4 linked regions of the Homo sapiens genome follow. The protein of the gene in region 2 purifies or fractionates together with the protein of the main gene of each other region. This does not show direct contact. Each region holds a gene or a part of one and is shown on either strand. Other genes may lie near its edges. The genes, in order: CAPN2, LSP1, ZMYM6 and PLEKHG3.

Region 1 (7,023 bases), on a different chromosome or scaffold from region 2:
TCACTGGTGATAACAGGCACATGCAGTGAGTGAATCTGGATTGAGTCCTGGATGGGGTTGGGGTGGGTCGCCAGAAAGGACATTTTGGGCAACTGGGAAAATGTTAGTATAGACTTTATAATAGATGACACTACTGAATTAATGTTATTTTCTTAGGTGTGGCAACAGTAGAGGAATTATGTAACAGAATGTCCTTATTCATAGGGAATAAATGCTGAAGTATTGAGGAGGGAAGTGTCATAACGTCTGCAACTTACTTTCATATGGCTCAAAAAAAGTGCACACATAGATAAAGCAGACATGGCAAATGTTAGCAATCGGTGAATCTAGGGGAGTGGCAATTGGATAGTTATTATGTTAGTCTTTCAACTTTTCTGTATACGTGAAAATTTTCAAATAAAAAGACGTGTGTGTGTGAGGGGGTAGTTAAAAAAATCAAGGTTAAAAAAAGAACACTGGACATGCAGAAGATCTGCGGTCTAGACTGGGTTCTGTAATTAACAGTGAACTTGAGTTGCTTGATAATTTTTTTTTTGAGACATGGTCTTACTTTGTCGCTGAGGCTGGGGTGCAATGGCATGATCATGGCTCACTACAGCCTCGACCTCCTGGGCTCAAGTGATCCTCCCACCTCAGCCTCCCGAGTAGCTGGGACGACAGTGGCATGCCACCATGCCCAGCTAACTTTTTTTTGTAGAGACAGGTTCTTGCTACGTTGCCCAGGCTGGTCTTGAACTCCTAGGCTCGAGTGATCCTCCCACCTCGGTCTCCCAAAGTGTTGGGATTTCAGGTGTGAGCCACCATGTCAGCCCATAATATTTTCAATAACAACAGTGATCACAACAGCAAGGACAGCTACCTCCTTATATATGATGTGTGAGTCACCTCTGAGCACTTTACATATATTAACTTGATTGAATCGCCACGACCTTCCAATGGATATTATCATTATTTCCATTTTTTAAATGAGGAAACTAAGGGACAGAGAGTTCCAGTAATTGGCCCAGGCCACACAGCTGGTAAGAGGCAGTCAGATTTGAACATGGGCACGAATACTTTTACGAGATCAAAAGAGAAAGCACCTTATAGAGTATAAAACACTATGAAGATGCATTGTTTTATTATTTTTAGCTTATCAAAATAGTAAGGTTGTAACTGTAAAACAGGGTAACATCTAAAACAAGTAAAACCAGGGCCCCTGGCGCCGGCCACTGCGGCCACCAGGTGGCAGCGCGGCGCACCCGGCGCCCGAGCTGCGAAAGGGACGCCCTTCTCCTCCCGCGCGGAACTTCAGGAGTGCGGGGCCCGAGTGTAAACTGGACCACCGTGGGGCCGCGCGGGCCCCTGGGCATCACCACAAACTGTGCCTGTGGCCATCGTGTCAGGACAGCAGGACCCCTGCACATCCGCGCCGGCCGTTACCTCCTCGGCTCCGGTGACCGAGTACGCGTGCCCCTTCACCAGCTTCTGAAACGTGATGGCCTCCGAGTCCGCGGCGCTGGTGATCTGCAAACACAGCAACCGTCAGACTGGCCGCACCCGCTCTCCCTTCCTCCCGGACTCCCTCGCTCCCTCTGTCCTACTGCCGGGCGGGACCGCCGGACGCACTAGCGCAGCGGCCGAGGCCTGGGGTGGGAGGCTCAGGGCTGCGCTTTCTTGCACTTGGAGAACCTTTCCTACCCCGTTCAAATGCTTGAACGCCGAGAATACCAGAGAAAAGGCGGAATGCAACCCTCTCGCGGAACGAGCACAGGCATTCCCGTGTGAATAGCGCATCCACGGATTTCTGCAGGCTGGGAAGGGCGGGAAAGGGCGCACGGCCGAGAGAGGGCTGGAGGGGGTCCTCGATGGCGCAGGGAAAGGGCGCACGGCCGAGAGAGGGCCGGAGGGGGTCCTCGATGGCGCAGGGCTGATACCCAGACAGCCTTGAGTGGCCCAGGGACACTGAGCACACCCTCGCCCCACCACCAGCCCATGCTCCGTGGTCTGGCCCAGCCCAGCTGTAGGGTTTATACTAGGACGGTTGTTTATTCCGGTCTGAGTCAGAATTTGCTTCTGTTTTAAGAACGCCTCACAGCCTCTCCTTTCCCCTATCTATTCTGATGAAGGTTGAGCCTGGGAAGAAGGGCTGGAGCAGAAAGGGTCTTCTGCCTCAACGTGTTCTGCTGATAAACTTTGAGAATTCCTGCCTAGGGAGTCTGACCTAGATTTTGGCTCCAAAAGCCAGGGCTTCTTATCTCTGTCCCCCGCAGAGACCAGAACCTGGATGGGACAGGGCTCAGAGGTTGGGCACAGCCTTTGCTCCAAGGCTCCTGGGCACAGTGCCCACCTCCCATCCCCTGGTGAGCGTTGCCAGCAAGGCTATTATGAGGAAATCTTTCCTCCTCTTCCTTCCGAAGTCTCCCACGGGCCTATTAGCTCTGCAAGAGTGCAGGGGAAGGCTGCACAGCACTGCAGATGGAGGGGAAGGTGGCAGGGGCAGCAGGTGGCAGGGGCTCCCAGGGAACCTGTGGTCAGAGGGGTGGGGGTGATTCAGAGCAGGCTAAGAGTGGGAAGTGGACTGAAGACAGAAGGGCTGGAGGCACCATCACCCCATCCATTACACCCCAGACAGCTTGACTTTTGCCTAGCAACCCTTGGCTTCCAGGTGATGAGCAATAATGGTAGACACTGGGGTGCTCAGAAACCAATACCTCTAAGAGATGGCACTTTGAAATGCTAAACTGAAGAAGCCTCAAGATCTCTCTGACCTCCCCTTTCCTTCTGTCTCTCGATCCACTCTCCCCCAAAGCACAGGAGGAAGCTATTCTCTGAAGTTCCCTCACCTGCCTAAAGTCTGGACCTGCCAAAGATGAAAACAATGACGTCTGGTCCTTTCCATGAGTTATTATGAACTGAACTCATATTGCAGGAAGAAAGACAAGTCTGTCAACATGGCTAGACAGACTTGTCACAAACCACTGTCTGCTCTGCAGGCCCAACAGACTTTATCCCAGACCATTTATGTTCTTTAAGCCCAATGAATTCCCCTAAAAATCATTTACGACATCCCTAAAATCATCCGCACCTCCCCATCTCCCTTCCCCTAAGAGGAAGGGAATATAACCCTCTGTATCCCAATGCGTGGTAGGGAAATCTCTTGTGATTCTCCCCTGTCCACATTCATACATTTGTATGCCATTTCTTGTATTAGTCTTCCTTTTGCCAGTTGATTTTCAGCGGACCTTCAGAGGGTGGAGGGAGGTTTTCCTTTGGCCCCTACGTGGACGAGGGCTGCATTACGTTGTACACAGGAGCAGTGGGTTCCCTTGGGCACTGTGGGAGCCTCCCTTCAGCAAGAGCAGATGGGGTGAGGCTAGGGAAGGCAGCCTGGACTTACGTCGATGGAGCAGCCAAGGAGAGAGCCTTTTTGCAGAGCTTTCTGGATGATCTTGAACAGGTTGGGAGGGGGCTTCTTCAACTCATACCACTCAGCAATGCCTCCGGTGAAGTCTTCGAAGCCCTCAGTGGTGGCACCCCCTGATAGCGCTTCATAGCATCCGTTGATCCTACAAGAGGGGATTAGACGCTGCCGCTACCCTTGACACTACTGATGCTATAATCTCTCAAACAGCCACCCCCTAGTACCGTCTAGATTTGATGCTCCAGGGACCCCCTGCTCACATTCTCCTTGGCCTTGTTCCCAGCTCGGGGTGCTCAGGAAGGCAAGGTATAATGTCCACAGTTACCATTTCCCTGGTATTTTGTGTTTTAAAGAAAATCTCAGGCCGGGCGCGGTAGCTCATGCCTGTAATCCCAGCACTCTGGGAGGCCGAGGTGGGCGGATCACTTGAGGTCAGGAGTTCAAGACCAGCCTGGCCAACATGGCAAAACACCATCTCTACTAAAAATACAAAAAAATTAGCTGGGCATGGTGGTGCATGCCTGTAGTCCCAGCTACTTGGGAGGCTGAGGCAAAAGAATTGCTGAAACTCAGAACGTGGAAATTGCAGTGAGCTGAGATCATGCCGCTCACTCCAGCCTGGGTGACAGAATGAGGCTCCGTATTAAAAAAAAAAAAAAAAAAAAAGATTCTCGTAGAACCTTAGAGTCGGAAGGACCTTAGTGATTTTCTGGATGAACCTCCTGTATTGATTCCTTCTACATCCTGACAAGAAAGGGGAGGTCTACTAATGGGTCGTTTGGCATTGATAGCTTAAAAAAGGACAACCATTCAATAATGGAAGCAGTTTCTCTGAGAAACAGGCACGGTGTTGGCAAGGGCTTAGTGCTCCTGACTGCTGATGCTGGAGTCCGGTGGCTTCCCTGACCCCAGTATTGAGCAGTGGGACTTAGAAGCATCCGTCAGGCTCCAGGTTCTCACAGCTGACTCCTCCTTCCTGGATTGGGACTGTAAGAAACAGAAATCCACTTGCTGCTCTAAAGTGGGGTCACTTTAATGGAAGGAGCCGGGCGGCACAGCCAACATGGGGCCATTGTGGAGAGGGGCTGGTGTGGGGCTTCTTACTGAGAGTGGGCAGCCCTGAGCACTGGACAAACTCAACTGTGGGCAACCTGGGTGGGAAGCAGCTGTGCGGAGATGGGGAAGCCATTGCTAATCAGTGACATCATCTATTCTGGGCAAGTTTCCTACCTCTGCAATGAATAGTTCTGCCCATTGGCAAAAATTCTGCTTTTTTAAGTTGATACAAATGTGTCCTGTCAAGGAAGTAGAGCTCCTTCTCAAGTCCAGCACAATCAGTACCATAACTTGTTCCTGTGCATTTGGTTAAAGATGGTGATAGACATCATTTATCAGCGTACAGTGCAGCCAGGCACCCTGCATGCACTATCTCCTTGCATTTAGAGCCTAATTTTGGCCAAAGAAGTCCTTCTATAGAAAAGGACTTCCCACTCAAAGTAGTCCTGGAGTAGTTCTACTGATTTTTATATTTTTAGTAGAGACGGGGTTTCATCATGTTGGCCAGGCTGGTCTCGAACTCCTGACCTCAAATGATCCACCCACCTCGGCCTCCCAAAGTGCTGAGATTACAGGCATGAGTGAATTTTTTGGAATCCAGGGCATTGGGGGAAGGCCATGGGGCCAGGGGAGGATGGCAACTTACTTGGCGTATGCCTTCTCCAGCAGGGCGCTCCAGAACTCGCTCCCTTCGGCTGAATGCACAAAGAGCAGCTCCCCGTCCTTGGTGGGCAGCCTGTCATCCACCACCACCTCCACCCACTCGCCGTATTGCCAGAACTGCAGAACAAGAGAGGTGGGCTGCAGGAGGAGCTGGTGGCAGCACTGGGACTCTGAGCCTCAGCTGCCTCTGGCTCCCCTTGCCCTGATCCCCTGGGATAGGTTCCATGAGCGCATCCTGGGAGGAGGTGCTCCCTTAACTCTCCTATGCAGGCCAAGTCCTCACTAAAAAAGCGAAGACAGAGGCGCATGTCCATCCTTTCAAATCCACACCCGCCTCTTTAGCATTCTGCCCTGTACCTTAGGCTGTTTTTTTTTTTTTTTGAGACCAAGTCTTGCTCTGCCCAGGCTGGAGTGCAGTGGCACGATCTCGGCTCACTGCAACCTCTGCCTCCTGGATGCAAGTGATTCTCTTGCCTCAGCCTCCCGAGTAGCTGGGATTAAGGGCACGTGCCACCACACCCGGCTAATTTTTTTTGTGTTTTTAGTAGAGACGGAGTTTCAGCATGTTGCCCCAGCTGGTCTCGAACTCCTGGGCTCAAGTGATCCACCCACCTTGGCCTCCCAACCTCTGCCTCCCAGGTTAAAGTGATTCTCCTGCCTCAGCCTCCCAAGTAGCTGGGATTACAGGCCTGCACTACTACGCCCAACTGATTTTTGTACTTTTAGTAGAGATGGGGTTTCATCATGTTGGCCAGGCTGGTCTCGAACTCCTGACCTCAAATGATCTGCCCACCTCGGCCTCCCAAAGTGCTGAGATTACGGGCATGAGCTACCGTGCCCAGCCAGCTTTTTCAAGTATTATTTCTCATTTACCGGCATAAAAGGAGGAGAACTTCAACGTTTTTGTCTCAAACATCAAATAATACAGTTTTTTTTTTTAAACTTGGGAATTAGTTCCTGAACACCTTGCTCTACCTCCCTTTTACATGTCCCAAGAAACCACCCAGGGCCATCCCAGCCGGGTCTCACATCCTGGCCACGGGTAAGCCAGGAAGCTTCCTGCTCTCGCCCAATGTCCTTTGTAGAACAGTATTGGTCTTGGGAGTCTGCAAACACCAGGGACTGATGAACCCAGCCAAGCCAGAAGACTGTTCCTAGCCCCCTGGACCTGTTGAGGAACCACCTGAGCCAACCATTAAGTTACCTGGAAGTGAAAGATCCCTGCATAGTTTTCCTGGAAGCTCTGGTTTAGGGGGACGACTCGAGCCAGGATTTCTTCATTCAAGGTGAGGGAGGCAATGGCTGCCAGCAGCCAGCAGTCACCTGTGAACACAGCACAAGGAGCTCTTATCAGAGGGTCTTAGAACCAGGAGGATGTTAAAAATCTTGTCTCCACCTCCAGGGGCTTAAAGCCTAAGACAACCTGTGAATAGACAGAGTGAAGTTTCAGGCAGTCCCCCATATGAGGGTTGGGTCAGAGGGTTTGGGGGCTATTAGGTTGGTGTAAAAGTAATTGTGATTTTTGCACCAACCTAGTATTTTGAGGGAAATGCAAAGGGAGAAATGTTTTTGCTGTGTTGTGGTTGGGCAGAGATGGGAAATTTCATTCCCTGAAAGACCCAGAACTCTGGTGGCTGAACTGTGCCCTCAGAGCCCAGCCTTGCACCTGATTCGCAGCAGATGCTCCACAGTGAGAGAATGAAACCAGCGCAGCTGCAGAGGCTTCTGAGCACACAGGCTTTGAATGGGAGTTTGGGCTGGGTGTGGTGGCGTACACCTGGAGTCCCAGCTATAATACGAATACTTGGGAGGCTGCGGCAGGAGGATCCCTTGAGCCCAGGATTTCAAGGCTGCAGTGAGCCATGATTGCACCACTGCACTCCAGCCTGGGCAACAGAGGG
Region 2 (7,023 bases):
ACCCCTCACCGCTGGCTCGCAGCGGACGCGCCTGTGGTTGAGCCGGCGACAACAGGGCGCCCCTCACGTGTCTGGGGGCAGCCGCTCTTCCAGCCCTGGGCTTGGCCAGCAGCTGGCCAGGGGCATGCCTGTCACTTGGGGCTCACCCGCGTCTCCGTCTCCCACCCCAGCCCACACGGTGTTGCGGCCTGACCCAGGCTGTGTACTTGGGGCCTGCTTTGTGCTGGGGTGGCATGGAGGACAGAGCCCTGGAGGCAGGTTCTAGCCCCATCCCTGGAGGGACTCGGCCTCTGTGGCCTCATTTCTACACTAGGGTGATGGTGGGGCCACCCCAAAGTCCCCAAGGCACAGTCGAGCTCAGCATGTCCCTGGCAGGTTCTGGGTGCTCAGGAAGCAGAATACTCAGGCCTCCACACCCCTGGCCCCAGGTCCTCCTTGGACCACAGGAGACACAGGCCTCCCACCTCAGGAGGGAGGAGGGCTGGCCTGACCACTGTCCCTCCCACCCTAGGACACAGTCATGCTCATATCGGCTGCGTCGATGGCACCCGAGGTGTGCGGCCCAAGCCTCCAGGGAACCCCTGGACCCCCACCGCCCCTGCTGCCCAAGCCAGGGAAGGACAACTTGCGTTTGCAGAAGCTCCTGAGGAAGGCAGCCCGGAAGAAGATGATGGGAGGCACACACCTCGCTCCACCCAGGGCCTTCCGCACCTCCCTGTCCCCCGTGAGTGAGGCCAGCCATGACCAGGAGGTCACAGCCCCGCACGCTGCTGAGGGCCCGCACCCCGCCGAAGCCCCACGCCTTCCTGAAGCCCCACGCCCCGCCGAGGCTCCCCGCATGGTGGCTGCCCTACCCCGCTCCCCGCACACCCCCATCATCCACCACGTGGCATCACCCCTGCAGAAGTCCACGTTCTCCATCGGCCTCACCCAGCGCAGGATTCTAGCTGCTCAATTCAGGGCCATGGGGCCCCAGGTTGTAGCCTCGGCCCCAGAACCTACCCGGCCCCCCAGTGGCTTCGTCCCTGTCTCTGGGGGTGGGGGCACCCACGTCACCCAGGTGCACATCCAGCTGGCACCATCCCCACACAATGGGACCCCTGAGCCTCCCAGGACAGCCCCAGAAGTGGGATCCAACAGCCAGGATGGAGATGCCACCCCAAGTCCCCCCAGGGCCCAGCCCCTGGTCCCAGTGGCTCACATCCGCCCACTGCCCACCACAGTCCAGGCTGCCAGTCCCTTGCCTGAGGAGCCCCCTGTACCACGGCCGCCACCCGGCTTCCAGGCCTCAGTGCCCAGAGAGGCTAGTGCCAGGGTTGTGGTGCCCATAGCCCCGACCTGCCGCTCGCTGGAGTCCTCACCGCACAGCCTGGTCCCCATGGGCCCTGGCAGAGAGCACCTGGAGGAGCCCCCGATGGCTGGCCCCGCCGCTGAGGCCGAGCGAGTGTCCAGCCCTGCCTGGGCCTCATCCCCTACCCCACCATCAGGCCCTCACCCATGCCCTGTCCCCAAAGTTGCACCCAAGCCCCGGCTCAGTGGCTGGACGTGGCTCAAGAAGCAGCTGCTGGAGGAGGCCCCAGAGCCTCCGTGCCCAGAGCCGCGGCAGAGCCTGGAGCCAGAGGTGCCCACCCCCACAGAGCAGGAGGTGCCTGCCCCCACAGAGCAGGAGGTGCCCGCCCTCACCGCACCCCGGGCCCCCGCCTCCCGGACCTCCAGGATGTGGGATGCCGTGCTGTACCGCATGTCAGTGGCGGAGGCCCAAGGGCGCCTGGCAGGGCCCAGCGGTGGGGAGCACACCCCAGCCAGCCTCACCCGCCTGCCCTTCCTGTACCGGCCTCGCTTCAACGCCCGGAAGCTGCAGGAGGCCACCCGGCCCCCTCCCACAGTCCGCTCCATCCTGGAGCTGAGCCCCCAGCCCAAGAACTTCAACCGCACAGCGACTGGCTGGAGGCTCCAGTGAAGTGGCCAGAATGGCCCCCAGAGCCCAGGACCATGGGATGGACAGAAGAAGGGGCTGAGGCTCTAGCTGGGGGCCCATAGTTGCTGCATGAAGATGCACCAGGGCCCAAGGGGCATGGGGTGCAGGGCAGCCTGGGAAGGGCACATGGGGTGCTGAGGGAAGTCTGCATGGTTAGGAGGGTGGTCAGGTGGACGGGGCAGAGAGGACGAGCTGGAGCCCCTGGGCTGCAGTGGTGTGAGGGGAACAGAGAAGGGGTCTGCGTCGGGATGTAGGATGGGGGCCTTGGGATGAAAACTTTAGGTAAGATGGCAGAGGACTGCATCTACTGACCTAGCCCAGGCTCCTCAGGGGCCTGGGCCTCTCACTGATCCTCCCTTTTGCTGTCACCTTTTGCTGTCAAAGGTTTGGGGCCAGATCTCTGCTTGCTGAGGCATGGGTGCGGTCAGGCTGGCTTGGCCATCGGCGTCAGGAGCAGTCAGCAGTTTTGCTGCCTGTGCTTCCTGATGGCAGAGCCAGATCCTGGGACTAGGGTGCAGGGGGGAGCCCTCAGCCAGCGTGGGACTTGGCACCAATACAAGTGCTCAGGGGCAGGCAGGGAGGGGCTCATCAGGGGTGGAGGAGGGCCCAGCGTGACCTCTCTCTCGGCCCACCTCTGCTTCCCCTACCTGGGCTGACAGCCTGAGGGGGCAGAACTCGAGGGATTCGCTGGTGGGACAGCGAGGGTCTCAGCACTGGCCATGCCCAGGCTTTGACAGCTGGATGAGGAGGGAGCCCTCAGTCCCAACCCTATGGGAACAGCTTGGCCAAGCGGGACAGAGAAGGGGCTGTGGCCCTGGTGGGGAGAGTGGAGGGGCCTACTCAGCAGTCAGCCAGGCTCTGGTGGGGGTGGCCAACCACAGGAGAGGGACACAGAGGTACCAGAAAAAGCCTCTGCCACAGCTGCTTGAGAGTCAGGGTTTGGCAGGGGAAGATGGTAGGAGGACAGCTGCCCCACCCTGTGGTGTGATGGGTGCTGGAAATGGAGCCTGGGGCCCAGGTCACTAATAAATGTGTGTCTCACCATGGCAGGAGTGGCACTGCTCTGTCTGCAGCATGGGATGGGGAGGGCATCAGGACCTCTGAATCGCTCTCGGCTGGGACAGGGAGTAGGACCTAAGTTCCTGCCCCTCTATGGACCCTCAGCATACAGATGGTCAGGGAACCTGGGCTCCATGCCACCTGCTTCCTTCAATGCTAGCCCTGTGGTGGCCAGGCTGCCCCTCACTTCCCTCACGAGCCCTGCTGTGGCTTTTGGGGAGTCCCAGATGGGAGCCTTGAGCTTCCCTAGTGGAGCAGTGGCTGAGCCGGGCTGACTCTAGTGAAATGAGCAGAGAGTTTGAATCTGGTATCAGGTGAGAGAGGCAGCATCTGCACAGGACTGGGAGACTGAGCTGGTCTGGGTTCTGGCCAACTCGGAGTCCACCCTTGTAGCCTGCAACAGGGCTCCAGGCAGCCTCCAGGTTGCCAAGTTCCCAGCACAGTGCACGTGTGTGCACCTCATCCCCTTCTGTGAGTTGCCAGGGACTCACCGAGATGGGACGCCTAGGGAGCCGGGCCCCCTTCCACAAGCACCTTCTCATACTTCCCATGCCCGGTGGCCACAAACTTATACCTCTTCCCAGATGGGGTGCTCTGTTGGGAAAGGAGACCAAGAGTGAAGGTGAGAGCAGCAGAAAGGAGATGATGCTGCCTCCGCCTCTGGGAAGCCCTCCCAGATGCACAGAGGACAGTCCCTCTTTGCCCTCCCCTGCTGCACCCACCCTGCCTGCACCAACCACATTTAGGCTCTACCTTAATTGTTGATGAGGTCTTGGAGCCTCCCTTCTGCTCCCAGAGGCTTTTCTTGCTCATGTCTCCAGCCACAATATCCTGGGGGCAGCAGAAGGGTATGTCACAAGGGCAGACCCCTGGATCTTGGGGAGTAGAAGCCCTGGGCCCTTCTCTCCCGCCTTGCCTTACCTGGCCAGGGGGCCTGGGATCTGCCTACCTAAACTTTTTCTGTGTGATCCCAGTGGAAGAGGCAGGGAAAGGAATAAAGGTGCCATCTACCTCCACTCGGACAACACAGCCTTCTACACCAGCAAGGGTGAACCCAACCCTACTGCAATACCTCAGGGTTCTGTATACCCACATTCATCCTGGACAGTCCCATGCTTGTCTTAACAAGGAAACCCGGCCTGCTACTAAACTCCCAGGCGCTGGCTCTGCAGCCCAGCCTTGCCCCTGGAGGGGACCTTACCTTGCAGGACGGAGTCTTGGCCGCAGACTGAGCCTGTACCTCACCCGTCTCCCACCGACTCTTGGTACTGGCCACAGCCATGCTGGGCAGCTCTATGGAGGCCTGGCGGGCTAGCTTGGGGGTCCGGCCAGCGGTCTGCAGAGGAGGAAAAGCATCAGGATTACCTTAGTGGACAGCCACCGTGGTCACATCAGAGGGTCACACTGGGCAACCGTCTGCTTTGTGTTTGTGTTTTCCCTGGGAGCGCTTTCCCAATGCAGCCCCAGAGTGGGGATCACTGGAAAGATGAGCCTTCCTCCATTCGATGCAGTTGTGAGACACCTCCCTGTCCTGAAGAGCATCAGGGAGATGATGGCGCACAGGACAGATGTGGGTCTGCCTCCATGCTCCTCATGGGGTAGGGCTGGGGGACCATGGGATGGATGGAGGGACATTGAATGGATAGAGGGACAATGGTTAAATTTCAGAGTATTGGTTGGATGGAGGAGCATTGATTAGATGGAGGAGTATTGGTTGTATAGAAAGGTGTTGATAGATGAAGGAATATTGATTGGATGGAGGAGTACTGATTATATGAGGGAGTGTTTGTTAGATGGAGGGGCATTGATTGAATGGAGTAGTATTGGTTGGATAGAGCCGTATTGGTTCAATGAAGGGGCATTGATTGCATGCAACGACGTTGATTGGATAAAGGAGTATTGGTTGGATGGAGGGGCACTGGTAGGATGGAAAGGTATTGACTGGATGGAGGAGCAGTGAATGAATGAAGGAGTATTGATTGGATGGGGAAGTATTGGTTGGATGGAGGAATATTGATAGGATACAGGAGCATTGATAGGACGGAGGAGTACTGGTTGGATGGAGAGGCATTAATTGGATGGAGGAATATTGGTTGGATAGAAGGATGTTGGTTGGATAGAGGAACATTGATTGCATGGAGGAGTACTGGTTGGATGGAGGAGTATTGGTTGGTTGAAGGGGGATTAATTGAAATCAGAAGTATTGCTTGACTAGAAGGGCGCTGATTGGGTGAAGGAGTAAAGTATGGATGGAGGGGCATTAATTGCATAGAAGAGCACTGATTGGATGGAGGAATACTGGTAAGATAGAGGAGTGCTTGTTGGATAAGTGAGTACTGGGTGGATGGAGGGGCACTGGGTGGATGGAGGGGCACTGATTTAGTAGAGTGTTGGTTGGATGGAAGGATACTGGTTAGATGGAGATGTCCTGATTAGATAAAGAAGTATTGGTTGAATAGAAGGGCATTGATTGGAAGCAGAGGCATTGATTGGGTGAAACTATTTTGGTTGGATGGAGGGAAATTGATGGGATAGAAGGCCATTGATTGGGTGCAAGGCATTATTGGATGGAGGGGCATTGACTGGATGAAGTTGTTTTGGTTGGCTGGAGGGGAATTGATTGAATGGAGGAGCACTGAATGAATAGGGGTATTGATTGGATGAAGGTGTATTGGTTGGATTGAAGGGAGTTGGTGGATGAAGGACTATTGGTTGGATGCAGGGACATTGACTGGATGGAAGAGTATTGGATGATTGGATGGAGAGGTACCGATTGAATGGAGGGGCTGGCATGTGGGACTGGCATTGGTTACATGGTGAGCCATTCATTGGATAGATGAGTATTGGTTGGATGGAGGGTATTGGTCAGATGGAGAAGCATTGATGGATGGAGGAGAATTGATTGGATGGGAGGGACATTGATTGGATGGAGGGACATTGGATGCAGAGGCACTGATTGGATGGAGTAGTATTGGATGGAGGGATGAATCTTGATTGGATGGAGGGGCACTGATTGGATTAAGGAGTACTGGTTGGATAAAGGGGGATTGATTGACTGGAGGAATATTGGCTGGATAGAGGAGCATTGATAGGATGAAAGAGCATTGATTGGGTGGTGGAGTACTGTTCCGAGGGGGGCATTGATTGAATGGAGGAACACTGAATAATTGGAGGAGTATTGGTTGCAGGAGTATTGGTTGTATAAAGGAACATTAATTGGATGCAGAAGCATTGATAGGATGGGAGATTATTGGTTGGATGGAGTAGCATTGATTGAAAGGGGGGGCATTGATTACATGGAGTGACATTGATTAGATGGAGGGGCATTGATTGGGTAGAGGGGCACTGACTGGATGGAGAAGCATTGGTTGGATAGGGTGTTGGTTGAATAAGGCGGCACTGATTGGATGGAAGGGCGTTGGTTGGATGAAGGAATGGTGCCAGGATGCAGGAGGGACCTGACAGCAGAGGGGAGCCAGGTCATACCTCGATGGCCTGGGTGTATTGTTCCAGCCACTGATCAATCTTGGAGATGGGCAAGTCTGGCTGGGATTTCTTCACACTGTTACTGGAGGGTAGAAGATGTGTCAGGCCCCATGTCTCCCACAAGGCTTCTCCCAACCTGCCCAAGCCTCTCCCAGAGCCCCCCTCGGTCTCCAGATCTCTACCTTGTGACTCCCTTCAACCCCCACTTGGTTAAACCTAAGATCTGAGCCCAGAAAGCAGACAGACAGACAGACAGACCTCTTCTCTATGGAGCGGTTTAGGGACTCGGTCCTGTCGATGAGCTGCAGAGGGTGGAGAGAGACACAGGCCTGCAGCAGCCGAGGTAAAGCCCACCCTCCATCTCCCCAGCTACTCCAACCACTAATCCAACCCCCAACCCTTATATCATGGGGGTTCGCTGAGCACCGGGCAATGGGGGGATAGCAGACAAAAGCCAGGCCTGGGCCTGGTCTTCCTGTGGCTGGCATGTGGGATTGGCC
Region 3 (7,023 bases), on a different chromosome or scaffold from region 2:
TTACAGTAGTTGATATAATATGGGCTTTGGAGTCATAAAGATTTTGATTCATTCAGCAAATATTTAATTAGACATCCTTTGTCTTAAGCACTGTGATTGGCCCTAATTATATAATCATGAAAAATATATTACCCTCCCCCAACAATAAAATTCTATTTTTTTAGAGGTAGAAAAACAAACAGTGATTTACCAGAGTGTTATAGATGCTGTCTTGCTGTCACCTACCAGCTTCCTCAAGAGCATATTACTTAACTTCCCTGGACCTCTCTCCTTTTCCTTATTTATAAAATGGCAGTAATATACTTACCTCTTGGGACTATGGTAAGGATTAAATGAAATGACACTTACAGAGCACCAGACATGTATTAGTGGTTCAATTAACTGTAGCTACCATTGTTAGCCTTTCAAAAAGTTAATCTTTTTAAAAATGAGGTAGGAATGGTTGCCAGCTATTGTCCTTTGACCTATGAAGTGAGACAAGGTCTAACTTCAAATTCCTCAGAGTAACCTGAATGAGAGAGCCACTTCAGGCAACATTATGTGAAGTTCTAACCTGAAAGAAGTCAAATAAGGGCAAAGTGCCTCATAAGAAGGCAAAAATAAAAGGAACATATCCAACCAACAACAAAGTCTGCAGAAATCCTATACTTTTTATCCCAAAGATTTCCTGTTTATATTCAATTGAATTTTTCTATTATAGCCCATAACTTATTTTATCCAGTGCTAAACACCAAATTTTTCTTCACATAATTTGAATACATTTTAAATAAAAACAATTTGCACTGATTTCAGAAAGCCAAAAAAAGTATATTATCACATTTACCTGATAAAACAGAACTGTAAATTTGGACATACAATCTTCACAACAAAACTCTTCTAACTTGCCCTCCAATCGATTTTCTACCAAATTTGGGGATGTCTGTGAACAGTAGCTGCACATCTTACAGTAGTTTCCCCATCGTTCTCCAAAGTCACGGGCAGAGAGGAATTTGCAAACTGAGGATCAGAGGGATGAAAGGAAGAAAAATCAAATTTACATTAACTGAGGAGGTATAATAAGTTTCTGTGGTCTTAGATATGAAACTTTAAGCTAATTTCTAATACACAATTATTTGCCTCTAGATTACAGGACAGTCTCTATATTCACAAACCAAACTCATACCACCTTTTATTTTATTTTATTTTTTGAGACAGAGTCTCACTCGTTTTGCCCAGGCTGGAGTGCAGTGGCACAATCTCAGCTCACTGCAACCTCTGCCTCCCAGGTTCAAACGATTCTCCTGCCTCAGCCTCCTGAGTAGAGCAGCTGGGATTACAGGTACCTGCCACCACACCCAGCTAATTTTTGTATTTTTAGTAGAGATGGCATTTCGCCATGTTGGCCAGGCTGGTCTCAAACTCCTGACCTCAGGTGATCTGGCTCGCCTTGGCCTCCCAAAGTGCTGGGAATACAGGCGTGAGCCACTGCGCCCTGCCACCACCTTTTAAATATACTCTAAATATTAGGCCATTTATATTCAGAAACATTAGAGGTATAAAAGTTTTTTAAGCCAAGAAGCAGCAACTGTTTTAAGTTCCTCTTCGCAAATGAGTGCAAGAACAAAAAGATCTCTGATGTCATAGCTAAACTTATGAAGAGATTTTCTTTATTAATACCACTGATGTAATCATTTTTACAGTTTTTTATTGCAATTACTGCAACATTTAAAAAGACTGACTTTCAGCCAGGCACAGTCGCTCACGCCTATAATCCCAGCACTTTGGGAGGCCGAGGCAGGAGTACCACCTGAGCTCAGGAGTTCAAGACCAGCCTGGGAAACATGGTGAAACCCCCCGTCTCTACCAAAAATAAAAAAAATTAGCCAGGCATGGTGGCACGCTCCTGTAGCTTCAGCTACTTGGGAGGCTGAAGTGGGAGGATCCCTTAAACCGGGGAGGCAGAGACTGCAATAAGCCAAGATCATGCCACCACACTCCAGCCTGAGTGACAGGGCAAGACCTTGTCTCAAAAAAATAAACAAACAAAAATAATAAATAAAAAGATTGACTTTAAAGTGAATTAACTATAAACACAATTCAAAAAAACCTTTTTTTTTTTGGAGACAAGAGTTTCGCTCGTCGCCCAGGCTGCAGTGCAATGGCATGATCTCAGCTCACTGCAACCTCTGCCTCTGAGGTTCATGCAATTCTCCTGCCTCAGGCTCCCAAGTAGCTGGGATTACAGGCGTGCGGCACCATGCCCGGCTAATTTTGTATAGAGACGGTGTTTTTTAACAGAGATGGGGTTTCACCATGTTGGTCAGGCTGGTCTTGAACTCCCAACCTCAAGTGATCCACCCACCTCAGCCTCCCAAAATGCTGGGATTACAGGCGTGAGCCTCCATGCCCGGCCTCCAAAATACTTCTAATTACACCTTGTAAGACAAAAAGAATGTGAAAACTAATCATGGCTTAATTGCCCAAGTCGTCATGAATTATAACAACCCATGCTCTGTGAATAAAACAACTTTGTCTTTACCTTCACTACAGAATGGCTTATCAACCCCTGAGAATCGCACAGTCTCCTTTATAATTTTCTGCAGTTTACAGTAGTCACACATTGCCACAACTTTATTTTTCTTCTTGTATTCATCAGAGCAATTCTTGCCACAAAACAGAAACATTTTACCCTGCAGAGAAACAACAGTCCATTAAGAGCCAACTAAACAGTTGCTTTATCTTTAAGAACTCCTTTTCATGTCAAAGCAAATTGAGTGATCAAAATTGAAAACACAAAAGTGTTTCTACTGGATGAGTTTATATACAATCCCTTTCATGATCTCTCTTTACCTTGTAAAAAAGAAGTTCTGGTTTTGTGGCAAATAGATGGTTACAGTGCTGACACTTGAGTTTAACAACTGTATGGGTTAAAGCAACTTGCTGGGATTGTTCAGCAAGAGGTTGGAGGCTGGCTGCAGCAGAGCCACGGATGGAGCTGGGGGAAACGGCAGAGGTGTTACCTCCTCCTATTGACACTGCTGACCTGGAGGAGGGCGGGCTTACAACCACTTGGCCCTGAGACAGGGGCACCGCCGAAGAGTTTGTTCCTTTTGGCTTGCTAAATACATTCTGAATGAAAACAAATAAGGTAAAGATTTTATCAACTGAGAAATAAGATAACTTTGTACTTTTCATTTCCTCATTTTAATAAATCAAGTCTCCCACAAACATTTTTTAAAATTTTCTATCTCACAGAAAGAGTTTAAATGGTATATTTCCAGAATAAAAGGACTGAGAAATACAACATTAAAAGGTCAAGGACTGGAATTCAGGCTTTCCTGACAAAGACCTCCAGTATATGCCTCTAATAAATTAGAGCAGGCCTCTCCTTCCCCCTAAAACTTCCCCCTACCTGCACTCCCATCATCAACCAGCTTCTGATGGCTACTACGACACAATAGCTACCAGCAGTCTCTTTCTCCCTAATGCCAGGGATACTACATCAGGCATGTTCCTACCCTGGAGATTACTAAACTCTACTCTTTGTGTATGTATTGCAGAGAGGGAGGAGAAAATGGGACAAGTGGATGCTTACAATTCCATGCCAGGAGTCACTGTGTTTCTGACACAGGATGAGAGGAAGGGGTATGTGAATCCCATCAGGCTACTGTTCTTCACCATACCACCTACCCAAACCACAATCCTAGCTTCCATCTTTTTGAAGGGGAGAGACCCAAGGGAGAAAGTGGGAGGGAATGACAGTTTAGGCTAGGATCCTAAATAAAGAAGAAACTGCTGAGACCCAATATCTGGGTTCAGATATTTTGTAGAAATGACCTGGTTGGGCCCCTGGATGAAACAAATTTTTTTCTTTTTAATTCAAATTTAAACTTTCATAAGAACAGGCCTTCAGCAGTTAACACTGTGCCACAGATCGATGCCTAACAGAACCACATGCATAATGTGCTACCTTAGATCATACCTGGAAAGCAACCACACAACTGGAGCTGCAGAAGCTGTATATAGTTCCATTTGACATGGCTAGGTGATACTGAGGGATTGCTGAGGTTTTACAACTATGACATGAAACCTGGACACCTTGGTGACAAAAAATTAAAAACAATGATTAAGTTATACCAATGAACAAACAATACAAAAATGTATTGGGAGAATGAAAAAATTAAATAATCAATAATATACCAAAAAAATCAAGGAACTTTATAAAAATCTGAAATCTAACCACAACTAACCTCTATTAAGTCCCACTTACACAAAAACTAACTTGGAAATTTTAAGTGTTTTTTCTTTCCTCTCACATATGAAATTATAAAATACTGTATATATTGCAACCAAGAAAATCGGGGAAAAACTATTTTCACATAAAAGTCAGTTATTTAAAAGTCAGTCTTGGGTTTTTATTTAACTAAATAGATAAATTTAGCTTGTAACAAAATCAGAGAAAAGCAGTTACGTTTTTCTTCAATAGTTATTAAATCTATAAATTTATCAAATTTAAACATTACCTGAAGAAGTAACAGTCTTAACTCTGTAAGCAGATAAGCAATTAATAGAGCAGAAAAGCTCTGTTTTTCCTGAATCATTTGTAGTCTCAATCATTTCAGCTGAGGGCCTCAATGACTTCCCCAGGGCATATGGAGGAATTTGGGCAGAATTCTATTAAAATAAAATAACATTAGATACCTAGTACAAACATACATATTTACATATTGTTCAAAAAAGTAAAAAGAAAAGCTACCTACAACCACGGTCCTTGGTTGAAATATTTGAGCATGATGATGAAACCACACTATTGGGAGGTGGGAAAATAAGTTCTTCCAGACAACAATAAAATAGAAACTGAAGAAAATTAGTAACTATTCAGATAGAGATCTTAGCAAACAAAACACATGAATTCAAACACAAGTAATGAATTAAATAGTCATTACATACTTTTTAATCACCAATAACCAGAGAAGACCAGCTAACCCATGAACCAAAGGGTCATTCTTGGTATAGTCTTGTACATCAATCTAGAAGAGTCTACCACCTTTAAGGTTACTTAATTTGTGAGATTCTTTAGCAGGAGATAGAAATGATATTTAATGTATATTAATAGAGATCCTACACAACTACCTATTTTTCAAGCTGAGTTTCATAATAAAATCTGCTTATAAGTTTATTCATGTTTTAAGAAATAATAAAAATAGCTACCATTTACATAACCAATATTATAACTTACTGAATGCTTACCATGAGTCAGGCCCCAGGCTAAGAAATTTATATATAGTGTATCACAGAAACCTTTCAACAACAGAGTGAGGCGCTCTCAAAAATTACATTAACAAAAAGTTTAAATTAACAGATGAGCAGAAGAAGTAGGAAATTAAACTCATTTCATCAGGCTCCAAAGTTCAGGCTCCTAACCACTACACTATGCTGTCAGTGATACATTATAAGGTCTCTCAATATGAAAAGAAATTGTAGGAAAATATAAATTGTGAGGTTTCACTACATAATCTTCCTAGTAAAAAGACAGAGTACAATACTAGTAACAAAATTAGAAATGGAACTGATTTTGGGATCATATATAAAATAACATGGATTCTTTTCCTGTGAAAGTAGAACCAGACTGCCAAAAATGGCAAATCTTAAAAAAAGAGATTCTTTTCAGTGATGAATGTCCATATGTCCATTACCAACTGCTCAAAGGAAGCAACAAATCAAACTTGCTAACTGAAAAAAAGTTTAATTATCATTTACAAGATACATCTTTGTTTTTTTTTTTTGTTTGTTTGTTTGTTTTTGAGACAGTCTTGCTCTGTCACCCAGGCTGGACTGCAGTGGCACAATCTCAGCTCACTGCAACCTCCACCTCCCGGGTTCAAGCAATTCTCCTGCCTCAGCCTCCTGAGTAGCTGGGATTACAGGCGCCCGCCACCACGCCCAGCTAATTTTTGTATTTTCAGTACAGACAGGGTTTCACCATGTTGGTCAGGCTGGTCTCGAACCCCTGACCTCGTGATCCACCCGCCTTGACCTCCCAAAGTGCTGGGATTACAGGCGTGAGCCACCGCGCCGGCCTTACAAGATACTTCTTTAAGAAAAACTTTTTAAAACCACAAATTAGTAATAATTAAATTGACACAAGGTGATAATATTTAGTAACCGGCTTAATCCATTATTCATTACAATAAATAAAATTACTTGAAGTATTCTCATGAGACAGTGTTGACCAAATAATTACAATTCATTCCCAAACACATTTTGAAATGAAAAAGACAAGCTTTGTTTAGATTCACTGATTTTATCATCTTAACTCTTGCTTATGGTTTATTTATAATATGGTTTTCTTGCTATCAATACATCACAAAATATTTCATGCTCACAGAAAATCATGAAATTACATTTATGAGGCCGAGGTGTGGTTGCTCATGCCTGTAATCCCGGCACTTTGGGAGGCTGAGGCGAGTGGATGGCTTGAGCTCAGGAGTTCAACACCGGCCTGAGCAACATGGCAAAACCCTATCTCGATTTCAAAAAAAGAAAAGAAATCACATTTGTAAATTCTTAGCTATGAAGGGAGCCTTAAAAAAGGGACCTATTTTACCTATATCAACTTACCACCACAATCATCCCTCACACCATCAGAATCTATCCCATTTTCTGGAAGGGAAATCACATATCAGGATGGACTAATGGGAGGAGCTCACTCTCATTTTGTAGTTCATCCCTGTGCAGCCAAATCAGAAGGAGTGGGCCTAAGTACATGCAACAAATAGATATTCATACCTGCTTGTATGCCGTGACACTTGTTGAACTAAAAACCTTCTGGGATTGGCAAGGACCAGAGCTACTATAGCAATAGCTCCCACAGTTCTCACAACAGTTCATGGTGAGGTTGTTTGTAGAGTGAAATTTTGAAAAACAGGCATCACTACAAAGACCATGTACCACATTTTGATATTTAACTTCAAATCGAGTCTAGGAAATAAACACACACATACACACACAAAATAAGCAGAGCCAGTTAAAAAAAAATCTCTT
Region 4 (7,023 bases), on a different chromosome or scaffold from region 2:
CTCACTGTGTTGTCCAGGCTGGTCTTGAACTCCTGGACTCAAGTGATCCTCCCACCTCAGCCTCCCAAGGTGCTAGGATTACAGGAGTGAGCCACCACACCTGGCCTGAACGATCGCTTTCTAACAGACAGGAGGGGAAGAAGGGCTACTACAGACAAGCATACTTAGACCAATGAAAACAAATACTTCAGTGTTACAGAAGAACCGTGAAGAGGGGCACGACACACCAAACACAGGCTGTCTCTATGGCAACCCACAGCCTCTGGGGCCCCTCAAGCATCTGGCAGTTCACACACCCTAAGTGATGCTGTAGCATTAACTCCAGAAAAGGAAAGGTTCAACGGTGGCCAGCACCTTCTGTTTTAAAAGGCTCAAGAGTACAAAACATGCTTTAGAAAGATGTCTATTTCAGCTAGGCGGGATGGCTCATGCCTGTAATCCCAGCACTCTGTGAGGCCGAGGCGGGTGGATCACCTGAGGTCAGGAGTTCGAGACCAGCCTGACCAACATGGTGAAACCCTGTTTCTACTAAAAATACAAAAAAAAAACTAGCTGGGCGTGGTGACGCGTGCCTGTAATCCCAGCTACTCGGGCGGCTGAGGCAGGAGAATCACTTGAACCCGGGAGGCAGAGGTTGCAGTGAGTAGAGATGGTGCCACTGCACTCCAGCCTGGGTGACAGACAAGGAAGGAAGGAAGGAAGGAAAGAAGGAAGGAAGGAAGGGAGGGAGGGAGGGAGGGAATTTCATAACTGTTAAAACATTTTTTAAATATTTTTTGAAAAAATCCAACTCTTAGTATTTACAGGCTAAAAATCTCAGCCATGTGGAAACTTCAGCTCTTTAAAATGGCTCATTTCCTGAGTGCCTTGGACACCTAAAGTTTGGGGGCTTTTTGTAACAGCTTTATTGAAATATAATTCAAATACAATTCACCTATTTAGAGTGTACAATTCAACGGCTTTAAGTATATTCAAAGAGTTGTACATCCATAGCTAAAGTTTCGATGCTAACACTAGGATAGAGCTACTATCACTACCACCAACGTTATCACTTGCTGAACACATCAGTGTGCTAGAAGCTTCAAATTTTAAGGTATGGCAAGTTGAGGAGGACAAGAAGAGAATTACAGGAGAAGAAAAGAAAAGAGAAGAGAAGAGAAAAGAAAGAGGGCTAGAGAGAAGAAAGCAACACCCCTATTTGGAGCTTTTAACTATAAAAACCATAAAACTTTTGCAACCATAGCAAGGTGGCCTAGGGCTCAAGATCCACCCAGAGCAATACCAACAACATAAAACCACAAAAGCCTTCTATAAGCCACTGCTCCACCTTCTCGAAGGCTAACACCCACATGTCAATCCACACACACATTCAGGGGACCCACAGGTCATCACCAATCAAAACCCAACACATCTGTGGGACCCAAGCCAGGACACCACTCTCAGTCACTTTAGAATCCTTCTCTCCCAGGGTCTTAAAGACAATTCTCACCCCAACTCCCACCTTGGGTATATGTTTGGCAGACACCTGGCTTAAGCCAGACCTGTCCTTGGGCCTTGCACTAAATAGCAACGAAAAAACCAATTTTGAAAACACACACACCCATCACCACGGAGTTTAGAATAAAAGCAAGGTTTTCTCTTTTCAAATAGACGATTCATTCCAATAATCCAAGAACACCCTAGCAAGTCCAGGAATGGAAGAAAACTCAAGGGAGGAAAATGGAACCTTTTCCTGAGACCCAAAATAAATATTTCCTGTCTGGGTTTGGTGCCACTGAACTCGTTTTCCCCGGGTCCTGCTTCTGCTCGGTTGTTCCAGGACTGGGCTGGGCCCATCCGCCATGTCCAAGTGTCACTCCTGAATGACTTGGTGTTGGTATTCCAGAGAGGCAAAGGAGGGAGGGGGCTAAGAAGGGGTGCCAAGGCCGGAGCGAGCAAGTATTCCTAGGGCCTTGAAAAAGGTGGGCTGGACGGGTACAGTGGCTCACACCTATAATCCCAGTACTTTGGGAGTCCGAGACGGGCGGATCACCTGAGGCCAGGAGTTCGAAACTAGCCTGGCCAACATATAGTGAAATCCCATCTCTACTAAAAAATACAAAAATTAGTTGGGTGTGGTGGTGCACGCTTGTAGTCCCAGCTACTTGGCAAGCTGAGGCAGGAGAATCGCTTGAACCCAGGAGGCAGAGGTTGCAGTGAGCCGAGATCGAGCCACTGCACTCCAGCCTGGGCAACAGAGCAAGACTCCATCTCTCAAAAAAAAAAAAAAAAGAAAAAGAAAAGAAAAGAAAAGAAAAAAGTAAGAAAAAGGTGGGCTCCAGACCTGGTAGGCAACGAGGGCCCAGGGGTACCTGGTGTGGGGAGCACCAGCACAGGGAGAGGATGAGCCCCAGGTGTGTGTCCAGCCCCGCTCTAGCCTTTCCCAGGGTTTCCGCAGAGGTGAGAGCCACAGCCCTGGACACTGCCGCAGACGGTCCCCAGTCTGGGCAAGGGTGTGAGGGAGAGGCCTCCTGCCTCCACAGCCCTTCTCTTACCAGATTGCCGGCGCCCCTGGCGCACATTGGTGGACACCTCATCCTGGGAGGACCAAGCCTTCTTCAGCCGCTCTGGGCTGCAGCGGTACCGATTGGGATCTGCACCCAGGAGAGAGACGATCAAGCTTTTGATTCCCAATTGGCCTTGGCCTACCCTAGACCCTGTCCATAACCAGCCAGACCTCTATACCCACCCAGCTCCAGGGCCAGGAGCCTCCAGAGCTCCCTCCATCTTCCAGCTGGGAGCTTCAGGCACTGAGAGTCCCACCGCTCAGCAGGAGAGCATCCTTAATCATGTAGTTCACCCCCCAGCCCTTAACAGGAGACCCCCGCCCTCCCTGCTCCTGGAATAAAATTATCAGGTAAAGCTTCCCCAGGATGCAGCCTGACCTAGCAATGTGCACGATTAGGGACAAAACAGGCAGAAAAGGGTACACTTACAATAGGAATCCATTTCCAAGATGGCTTCCTTGGCCTGAAGGGGAAGGAAACACACCTGGTTATTACCTTACCATGTGCCGGCCTTCCCTGCCCATAGGACCCACTGTTGCTGTACGAGGACACCCCACAGTGCTGCACCAAGGCCCGGGGCATCTGCTGTACTGACACTCACTGTCCACTGGAGCCCAAATCCAGAAGGTGAGCCCCCAATGGACCTTGCAGAGCTGGCTCAGAGGAGCACATTCTCCTTGCACACAGTCAGGAGCTGGGGGAACTCACCTTCTGGGGAATGGTGGCATGGTGGTTCTCTAGGATGAGCCTCTTGATGTGGTGAGTCCAGTTCCGTTTCTCCTCCACTGTCTTGGCCTGGGAGGACCCAAGGGAAAGGGACCCAGTGGTTATCATTACAGGCCTGAAGCTGTCTAGCATGGACAGTGCTTCCACCCAGGGAGAAAAAGTGGGGCCATGCTGGGGCCTCTGTGAGGTTAACCTGACTCCTCACTTTGACCCTGAGAGGTGCCTGCAATGATCCTTGCCTCACAGATGGAGACACTGGGGCTTGGGGCAGCTAGGTGAGCAGAGGAGCCAGGAGTCCCACGCAGGTGTCCCCTGGGCATCTTGTTCCCTAGCCCCTGAGCCCCACCTTCCCCTCACCTGGATGCTGTACTGCTGCTTGCTGTGCTTGTAGTGGGTGACAGTGAAGCACAGGGAGTCTCTGGTGCTTTCGATCAGCATCAGGGAGGAGCACTAGGGGCAGAGGGAAAGGACAGTCAAGCACAAGGTTGACAGCCTGGGGAAGCAGGGAGGGTGATCTCAGAAGGGTGGTGCTGGAGCCCCAAGAAGCAGACAAGAAGGGGAGCCCAGATCCTTTGGGAAGGAGAGAAGATGGCAGAGGAGATGGGGCAGGGCCTGGTTACCGGGATGTTGCCCTTGTAGACAAAGTGATCGCCCCGCTTCTTGGTGATAAGCAGTGTTTTGTCAAAGAGGAAAAAGGTCCTTTCATTGCGCACGCGATGCACGCGGAATGTGCCCTCCAGGACAAGCTCCCCGTAGGTGGTCAGGTCGGGCCCCTTCCAGTTGATGAGGAGTGACTGAATCTCCTGCAGCAGAGGGGCCCCAATCCCTAGAGTCAGGCCACTGGGGCCTTAGGAGGCTCTGCAAACCCTGCCACAAAGGCTCCCCCAATGCCACTGCCCAGCTCATCCCAGCAGGGTGGCCACAGTCCCTCTTCCCAGCGGAAGCCTGGCCCACCCAGCCCTGCCCCTCCCCCAGCGTCCCAGCCCCAGAGCACCTGGAGCCGGACCGCGTGCTCATGCCTCCTCTTCATGTCGTTGATGTACCAGGCCACACAGGTCATGGTGTCAATGGCATCCTCCACCACCTCAAAGCCATCCTCTTCTTCATCAAAATGCTTGGCAATTTCCTGCGCAGAAGATAGACGCTTAGGTGCCCCTGACCCGAAGGCCCTGCCCTCCCCAGGCCCTAGGTGCTTGGGAGGACCGAGGGGCTACCTGGAGCAGCAGGTGGTACTTGAGGATGCGCTGGACTGGCTTCAGCAGGTAGGAGCCCAAGGGCAGCGAGTGCTGTAGCAGCTCCTGCCGGTCCCGAAAGAACTTGGCCTGCTGCTTGTCCCGCATGCATTCCGTCAGGGCGGCCACGGAGCTGGGAGTGGGAGAAGGGCCAGTCACCACCTGGGGAAGGCCTGGATGAGGAAGTGGGGGGCTCTGGACTCACCAAATGGCTCTGCCTTCCCTCTCACCCCAATTACTCACTTGGGGTAATTGTTGCAATACTGAGTGTAGATATCAAACTCTTGGCTCTAAGAAGAGATCAAAAATAGTGATTTCAGGGAGATTCTCATTTGACAGTAAAGATGGTGGTAGCAGATAGGCCCCTGGCCCCCAGAGCACCCTCTGTCCCCTGTTCCCAAATGCCTACAGAGCCATCTTTATACCTATTTGTCAAGGACATCCCATCCACCCAGCAGCCCTGGCTCCCCTCAGAACACCCTTCTCATTCAAGATAGAGCACCCAGGACTTTCCCTGGAAAGGAATCCCCAGGACTCAGATGTCCTCTTATGCTGGCAGTTCTTGTCTCTCTGAGCTCTCAGCAAGGTAGGACAGAGGCAAGGACCCAGCCCTTCTTACCCTTTCCACAAAGCAGCTGGCCACAGCCACGGGGTCACTATTGCAGCTGTCCAGGTCTCTGAGGAGCTGGCTGGGTGAGGGGAGAGCAGCCACTGTACCCTCTGCAGTCAGAGGACAATGCCCCTCACTGCCCCCTCCCCAACCTCCCAAACCCTGACTGACAGCCAGCCCTATTGCTTTGCTAAAGAACTGGGGCTTCTAGCCTCAGAGGGAGTCCTGCCCCAGGCAGCAACCACAGAAAGTATCCAACACAAAGCAGCCACAAAGCAGGAAGTCAGGGAGACCTACAGGCTCAACAAGAGGGAGATGAAGAGGGGACCCCCATACCCACCTCGGGAGGGGACACAGCTCCTCTGCAGGCAGAAGGAGTCAAACACACAAAAGCAGAGGATTAAAGGGTGAAGGAGAGAGAATGGGGACTAGCAAAGGAGCCAGGGCGCCCAGGATGTGGGACATGGGGAGAGACAGGTGAGTCCTGGCACCCCTAGAAACACTGCTCCCTGCCTCCTCCCTCTGTGCTCCTCCTCTTTTCCCAACCCCTCACCATTGGCCTAAGTCCTCCCTGCACCCTGCCCTCCCAGACTTCTCCAGCTTACACAGCCAGAGCTCCCTCTGCCCATCTTAAGGGGCCTGGGATACGATTCTTCCTGTCCTAGCACCGCTGTTCCCTCAAGCCCTGCCCCTCCAGAGCAGTGCACTTTCCCGGGGGAGTCTGTGGTCCCAGGCAGGAGACCCATGCCTTTTGCCCTGACACAGCCCCTGGTCAGGCCTTGTTTGGCTTCCCACATGTGTCTTGCCTGGGTTGTGCAATCCACTAATAGGTCAGATCATCTCCAGGGAGCCCTTGGGGTCAGTGGAAAGGAGGATAAGAAATTAACAGATGTGCAAATGGAAAATGAAGATGAGAAGGACAGGGAAGGTTCTCTTCCACAGGGAAGAGAACCAGTGTGCAAGGTAGGGCCCAGCAGCCCCTTGAGGGGGCACCGGCTCAGGATGGACCCAACATGCACACAACCTCAAATTACCTCCCCGTCTGCCCTTGAGAGAAAGCAGATCAGCCCAGGGCACAGAGATGGACAACCCTTCCCTGTCCTCAGAGATCAGGCCCCAGGCCCACATGTCACAGGCCCATGAGACCAGGGACATCCAGGGTTCCTCCCTAGGCCCTGAGGTGGGCCTCGCAGGCAGAACATGGTGAGTGTCAGGCCCATTCACACACCTGTTCAGCGCGTAGATATTTTCTATGTTCCCAAAGAGGGCGCTGACCTGTTCTGGCTTCAGCAGCCCGGGTGTGTCAATGATCTTCAAGAGGTAGTCCTGCGTGGAGGGAGGTGGTCAGAACCTAGCCCCCGGCACAACCCTGCCCACTACCTTCCCTAGCCACACCTCGTTTCGGCCCTGCTGTAACACCACTTCACGGACATTGCCTACTGTGAGACAGTGTCCACCCCAAAATTCATGTCCACTTGGAACCCCAGAATGTGACTTTATTTGGAAATAAGGTCTTTGTGGATGCCATTAGTTAAGGATCTCAAGATGACTTCAGATAGGATTTAGGGTGGGCCCCAAATCCAGTGGCTGCTGTCCTTATAAGAGGAGAAGGAGGACACAGAGAGACACAAAGAAAAAGGTGATGGGAAGGTGCTGGGCCGCATCTCCAGGCCAACAATGTCAAAGACTGCCAGGACCCCAGAAGCTGGATGACAGGCATAGAATGCCTACTCCCTCAGAGGCTCTGAAGGGAGCCAACCCAGCCAACACATTGATTTTTGGACTTCTGGCCTCCTGAACTGAGTGAGAACACATTTGCTGTTTTAAGCCACCCAGTGTGTGGTCATTTGTTAAGGCAGCCCTAGGAAACTAATCCACGCCCTGAGCCAGTGGGGCAGAGGGCTTCCTC

What was found.
Region 1: the proteins of LSP1 (region 2) and CAPN2 purify together in Homo sapiens (affinity purification with mass spectrometry; 2 studies listed by BioGRID and IntAct, with this or other methods). This does not show direct contact.
Region 3: the proteins of LSP1 (region 2) and ZMYM6 purify together in Homo sapiens (affinity purification with mass spectrometry; 2 studies listed by BioGRID and IntAct, with this or other methods). This does not show direct contact.
Region 4: the proteins of LSP1 (region 2) and PLEKHG3 purify together in Homo sapiens (affinity purification with mass spectrometry; 2 studies listed by BioGRID and IntAct, with this or other methods). This does not show direct contact.

Annotation. Positions count from the first base shown.
Region 1 is NC_000001.11:223,743,522-223,750,544, reverse strand, and holds part of CAPN2 (calpain-2 catalytic subunit), read right to left. Parts: intron 6,446-7,023; coding exon 6,327-6,445; intron 5,240-6,326; coding exon 5,106-5,239; intron 3,549-5,105; coding exon 3,380-3,548; intron 1,507-3,379; coding exon 1,423-1,506; intron 1-1,422. UniProt on the Homo sapiens protein: Calcium-regulated non-lysosomal thiol-protease which catalyzes limited proteolysis of substrates involved in cytoskeletal remodeling and signal transduction. Proteolytically cleaves MYOC at 'Arg-226'.
Region 2 is NC_000011.10:1,884,082-1,891,104, reverse strand, and holds part of LSP1 (lymphocyte-specific protein 1), read right to left. Parts: intron 6,826-7,023; coding exon 6,782-6,825; intron 6,606-6,781; coding exon 6,524-6,605; intron 4,374-6,523; coding exon 4,239-4,373; intron 3,869-4,238; coding exon 3,791-3,868; intron 3,632-3,790; coding exon 3,542-3,631; 3' UTR 3,529-3,541; intron 3,119-3,528; exon of another isoform or gene 1,961-3,118; coding exon of another isoform or gene 521-1,960; exon of another isoform or gene 1-520. Other genes in the region: PRR33 (proline-rich protein 33), read left to right, coding at 521-1,960. UniProt on the Homo sapiens protein: May play a role in mediating neutrophil activation and chemotaxis.
Region 3 is NC_000001.11:35,007,929-35,014,951, forward strand, and holds part of ZMYM6 (zinc finger MYM-type protein 6), read right to left. Parts: intron 6,961-7,023; coding exon 6,769-6,960; intron 4,654-6,768; coding exon 4,503-4,653; intron 4,078-4,502; coding exon 3,962-4,077; intron 3,109-3,961; coding exon 2,830-3,108; intron 2,670-2,829; coding exon 2,519-2,669; intron 997-2,518; coding exon 824-996; intron 1-823. UniProt on the Homo sapiens protein: Plays a role in the regulation of cell morphology and cytoskeletal organization.
Region 4 is NC_000014.9:64,728,413-64,735,435, reverse strand, and holds part of PLEKHG3 (pleckstrin homology domain-containing family G member 3), read right to left. Parts: intron 6,441-7,023; coding exon 6,343-6,440; intron 5,194-6,342; coding exon 5,124-5,193; intron 4,795-5,123; coding exon 4,748-4,794; intron 4,638-4,747; coding exon 4,487-4,637; intron 4,399-4,486; coding exon 4,267-4,398; intron 4,076-4,266; coding exon 3,893-4,075; intron 3,723-3,892; coding exon 3,630-3,722; intron 3,342-3,629; coding exon 3,255-3,341; intron 3,010-3,254; coding exon 2,976-3,009; intron 2,634-2,975; coding exon 2,535-2,633; intron 1-2,534. UniProt on the Homo sapiens protein: Plays a role in controlling cell polarity and cell motility by selectively binding newly polymerized actin and activating RAC1 and CDC42 to enhance local actin polymerization.